Regions from separate parts of the Homo sapiens genome. Here region 1 is linked to region 2. The links come from fine-mapping of genetic effects on gene expression. Tissue or cell type: whole blood. Region 2 holds a variant in brackets; the other region holds the start of a gene. All regions are shown on one strand. Distances are from middle to middle.

Region 1 (2,609 bases), 26 kb after region 2:
ACTGTATTTCCATGCCAGCCAGGGTCCAGGGACAGCCTCTCGGGAGGTACCGGGTGGCTGGGCCTGGGGCCCGGTAGCACAGCGCTTAACGGTATCTGCCTGCTCCACTCCACGGGGCCAGAGGCACCAGCACGATGCCGCCCCGACTCGGCTCTGCGGTGGCCCCTGTGGGCCTGCCCTTCCTTTAGCTCCAGCTGCTGCCCGCGGCATCCCCGCTCATTCCCGCTGCGCAGCTCCGCGCTTGCTATCTAAGATCTCCCTCCAGTTGTCACTCCAGGAGAGCAGCCGTCTCCTTGTCGGGGGCAGGACCAGGTGCCGATTGTGGCAGCAGGTGAACAAGATGTGCTCCCAGCTTGGGGTCTCCTCCTGGCCTAGGACAGTGAAAGACAGCGCGCTGCCATCTGTCATGGGTATTATTACTCCCTCTCCCTAATCCGGGCAGGCCAGAGGCCTGGAGGCTGCCAAGGATAACGGGTCCAACCTCGAACTGTGTCCTTGTCATCAATGAGCAGGTCCCCCAAGACCACCGTCTTGTCCCTTGTCAGGATAATTCGTTCTACGAACTGGGGCCCCAGGTGCTGCTCCACCCAGCGGTACTGTGTAGAAAACACAGTCTGTGAGTAGGGCCTGATGGAAGCCGGAATTCAGGGATAGGGACTTGGCTCTAAGCCCTTGAGAGCCCCCCACCCCCACCTTCTGGGTTTCTGGTGGTTTCTTTTTAAAATCAGGATTTAGGCAGCTCCACGTGCGGAGTAGGGGCGGGGCAGCCACACCTTCTCACCCACACAGTGGTGGTACTTCAGCAGGGGGCTGGTGCAGATGAAGACCTGCGTGCTGCGGAGAAGGACGCGGTTACCGCCGGGAGCCAGGAGCCCGCCCAGGACTCCGCCCGCCCCCCTCTCTCCTTACTCCGGTAGGTCGTTCATCTCCCGCACAGCGTCCAAGGCTCCCGGGATGGGCTCCAGGTCCAGGAAAAAGCCCGGGGCTTCGTACACACTGGCCACTTTATCCTGAAAGACAAGAGTTCTGGGTCCCGGCTTCCCGTTCCCGCGAGGACCCGCAGGGAGGCTCCTGGGGGCTCCGGGCCCGAGCTCAGAGGGGCGGAGGGGGCGTCGGTCAGGGGCACGCGCCCAAAGGCTCCTCCCCAGGGTGCGCTGCCCGCGGGTTCCAGGGTGAGAGCTCTGCGCCCTTCACAGAGAAGGGGGAGACCCCCGGAACGGAGCGAGCGGGCCCTGCCCGGGTGGGGACCCTGCGCCCCCTACCGCCAGGTCGGGCCGCAGGGCGCGGTACTGCTCGCGGGCCAGGAAGCCGCGGCGTTGCTCCAGCGGCACGTGCGGCTCCTCAGGGAAGCGGCGGCGGAAGCCCCGCAGGAGGCCGGCCTCGAAGTCGGCCAGGACGCCGTCCATGTCCACCAGCACGCGCACGCTCCGCGCCATCGCCGCCGGGCCGGAGCTGCGAGCTCTCGGGGTCTGGGGGGCGCGGGCTCGGCCGGAAGCGGAGGGAGCGCTGCTTCCGGAGTCCGCCGGGCTGATTTGCATAGAGTGTCCGGGCCGCCCCGCCCAGGTCGTAAACCAGTGCCGACGGCCCTGCGGTTGCGCGAGGCCATCCTAGGGTTCGGGTGCAGGGACGGCTTTGGGGGGCACTTTTCTGACCCTGCGCTTCTTCGGGACCCAGCCTTTGTCCCCATCAGCCGCCTCCCACTTTACGGCAGACGTACCCCCGTTCACCCCACGTTACTAGTAGGGGACCGACCTTCCGGGGGCCCAACAAAGGGATGCTCTGAAATACTGGGAAGCATCTAACGAGGAGTCAAGGGTCCTAAACCCGTGGGGCTAGCTCCACATTTTTTTTCTTTTTTTCTTTTTTTTTTTTTTTATTTTGAGACGGAGTCTGGCTCTGTCGCCCAGGCTGCGGCGCAGTGGCGGCGCGATCTCGGCTCACTGCAGCCTCCGCTTCCCGGGTTCAACCGATTCTCTTGCTTCAGCCTCCCGAGTAGCTGGGATTACAGGCACCCGCCACCACGCCTGGCTAATTTTTGTAGTTTTAGTAGAGACGGGGTTTCGCCATGTTGGTCAGGCTGGTTTCAAACTCCTGACCTCAAGTGATCTGCCTGCCTTGGCCTCCCAAAGTGTTGGGATTATAGGCTTGAGCCACCGCACCTGGCCAAAGTCTTATTACCGCAGTACCGTGGTCTCAGTGGATTGCTTTCGTCTGTGCAGTGGAGCAGGAACAATCCCTCGAGGACTACAAAGTGAAATGAATCTGTTAACTGGTTTGTGTAAGTCTAGCTCGTTAAGAGACTAATTCACACTAGAGTTGGCTTGAAACATGGGAGCTTCAAGTGTGGTTTCCCCCGGAAAGATGATTTTGATCAAGCACAGGTAATCAGGACTGTCCTCAGGACTTTATGTGGAACTGACATCGCTTACCTACTCCCGTCTAGAAAATGCTGAACAGGGCCAGGTGCGGTGGCTCACGCCTATAATCCCAGCACTTTGGGAGGCCGTGGCGGGCGGATCATCTGAGGTCGGGAGTTCAAGACCAGCCTGACCAACATGGAGAAATCCTGTCGCTACTAAAAATACAAAATTAGCGTGGTGGCACATGCT
Region 2 (2,714 bases):
TCCAGCTTCTTCCTCATCTCAGCTGCCCTCTTCATGGGTGGCAGCTTCTACGCCCTGCAGAAGAAGGAGCAAGGCAAGCAGGCTGTCGCGGCGGATGCCCTGGAGCGGGATCTTTTCTTGGAAGCCAAAGACGGTCCTGGGAAGCAACGGTCCCCTGAGATCATGTATGTAACCAGCGTCTAAGACCCAGGGTTCATCTGTGTGACCAGTGTCTGAGTCCTGGGATCACTGAGTGAACACTGTCTCAGCCCAGCCCAGGAGGGGGACCTCTAGCTCCTTCACCAGGGGCTTGGGTGAAGAGTAGCCCAGGAAGCCCGGGCTGTCCAGGCTCTGCAAGCTGGGACTCTGCCAGGAGCTGGGACTTTGGAGGCTGGCCTCTGAAGATGCCCTGAGAAACTCTTTTTTTTTTTTTTTTTTTTTGAGGCGGAGTTTCACTCTTGTTGCCCAGGCTGGAGTGCAGTGGCACCATCTCGGCTCACTGCAACCTCTGCCTCCCAAGTTCAAGGGATTCTCCTGCCTCTGCCCCCCAAGTTCAAGCGATTCTCCTGCCTCTGCCCCCCAAGTAGCTGAGATTACAGGCATGCGCCACCACTCCCGGCTAATTTTGTCTTTTAGTAGAGATGGGGTTTCTCTATGTTGGTCAGGCTGGTCTCCAACTTCCGACCTCAGGTGATCTGCCCACCTCAGCCTCCCAAAGTGCTGGGATTACAGGCGTGAGCCACCGTGCCCAGCCAGAGGAACCCTTTTCTAACAACTAGCGGAATCCAGGAGCAGGCCCTCCGGACTTTTTTCCTTGGGTACCAGGGTACTCGGGGCCCAGGAACCTGGGTCTGAGCCCTGCTCAGGTTTGTCCCAGCCGGCTCAGCGCAGCTGGCTGTGTGTTGCTGCTCCTACAGCTCAATGCACTGGACCTTCTCGTCCAGCCTGGATGCCTCTATCATTTCTCTTTGTCTTTCTCTGGCCTCCATACCGTTCTGAAGAGCTCACCTTCCTCTAGGTTCCTCCTGCCCTGCTCTTCCCAAGTGACCCAGCCCTCACCTGTAGGGCAGCCAAGGCTGGTGGTGCAGCTGCCCCCAGTGAAGGTCATTGGGCCTCGCACTGGGCAGTGCAGAGGTCCAGGCTGAGGAGTTGAGTGGCGCGCCCATCCTGGCGCCTGTGCAGAGAACGGGAGGGGGGCCCCTGGCTTGGATCCTAGAATCGGTGAAGTCTGAGGGCCCCCCTGCAGTCTCAGCAGGACCTGCTCTATCAAGGGGCTTCCTCCTTCCTTTCCCCACCCTGTCTCCTTGGCGGGGAGGATTAGTGCCAGGTGGGGGAAGCCAGACATTTGACTGACGGGAGAGGAAGGCTTGCCAGGCAGCCCGAAGACTGTTGTGAAAATGGGGCTGCTTTTGCAAGGGAAGCTCTTTTACTCCCCATTCCTGTCCTCCAGAGGCCCCCCTTTTCCCTGCCGTGTTATTGGTGTCAACCCTGGGGTAAGTGGCTGGCTGGACTCACCCCTGCTCCCC[G/A]TACACCTGTGCCTGTGACTGGCGGTCCAAGCTCCCCACACACACATCTTGCTGGTGCCTTTCCCTGAAGTCACCACCCAGGGGCTGGCTGTCATCAGCCCATTCTTGTCCCAGCAGGGTACCGAGGGAATGATAAAACAGAATGTGTTTGAATTACACACAAAAATGTTCCCTGCAGCAGGTCATAAACTCTGTGAACTAATGAAGCTGACAAACAGAGCTGGAGTACGTTTCCCCTCACCCTTCCTTTCCTCCTAGCTCAGCAAGGGGTGCTCAGGTTCAGGATGTTGTTTGTTGATTCAGGCTCAACCAGGCTCCGCAAGAAAACCTTATCAGGAGATTTTATTTTCATGAACAGGTGCCAGTCTTCCCGCCAGCCACGTCCAGCTGGCGTCAATAAGCATCTTTGGGGATGTCCTGCCTCCTCCAGGACCAGCCATGAGTGGCTCTTATGGCCAAAGGCGGTACTGCAGGCCAAGCAAACGGCTCTGGGCTGGAATAGCCCTACCTGAGTGCCCTGTTTGACTCCGCCACTATCTGCCATGTGAGTTGGGCAAATTGTTGACCACCTCTGAGCCTTGAAAAAGTAGGAGGTTACTTTGTTAGAGCAAAATAATAAAATTTAATTTTAAAAAAGAAAACGTAGGAGGTTGGTTTGGATGAGCTAGTCTCTTCCGGTTGAAAAGTCTGACTCGGTGAGCATCCTGACGACTCCATTTCCTTCTGGCTCCCCACCCAGTCTTACACTTGGCTGCCATCAATACCACATGCTCTGAAGGGAGAGTGCTTGCATGGACTTTGCCAAATCCTGTCTGCTCCATCTCAGTTGAATGGAAAAGGAGGGAGGTGGGGCTGGTAGATAGGTGCTTTTGGTGCTAGTATCCACCAGGTTTTGTGTGCATCCCGTAATGAGCCCACTTCCTGAAAACATTTAAAGAAAAAAGATATCAGCTGGAGATGGCAGTGCGCACATGTAATCCCAGCTACTCGGGAGGTTGAGGTGGGAGGATCACTCAAACCTGGGAGTTTGAGGCCAGCCTGGGCAACACAGCAAGACCCTGTCTTTTTTTTAAAAAAAAAAAAAAAAAAAAGGCTGGGTGTGGTGGCTCACGCCTGTAATCCCAGCACTTTGAGAGGCCAAGATGGGTGGGTCACTAGAGGTCAGGAGTTCAAGACCAGCCTGGCCAACATGGCAAAACCCCAGCTCTA

The links. PIP is the estimated chance that this variant, and not a neighbour inherited with it, causes the effect.
Region 1: it holds the start of NT5C, and the variant in region 2 is fine-mapped to the expression of NT5C in whole blood (INTERVAL, PIP above 0.99).

The regions. Positions count from the first base shown.
Region 1 is chr17:75,130,272-75,132,880 of GRCh38, forward strand. NT5C (5', 3'-nucleotidase, cytosolic) reads right to left here and starts at 1,471. Exons shown (of 5, transcript NM_014595.3): 1 at 1,263-1,471; 2 at 910-1,010; 3 at 774-834; 4 at 482-596; 5 at 1-371. The coding sequence starts at 1,436. The coding sequence ends at 217. It overlaps ARMC7 (armadillo repeat containing 7), which reads left to right. Exons shown (of 3, transcript NM_024585.4): 3 at 1. RefSeq lists an enhancer at 364-453 and silencers at 490-694, 1,064-1,633.
Region 2 is chr17:75,104,017-75,106,730 of GRCh38, forward strand. SLC16A5 (solute carrier family 16 member 5) reads left to right here. Exons shown (of 7, transcript NM_004695.4): 6 at 1-164; 7 at 1,864-2,146. The coding sequence ends at 2,017. Among named protein-coding and RNA genes, the nearest start is that of ARMC7, 4.6 kb to the right of the region's middle. RefSeq lists enhancers at 673-1,173, 1,174-1,674. The variant G/A (reference allele first, on the strand shown) is at 1,506.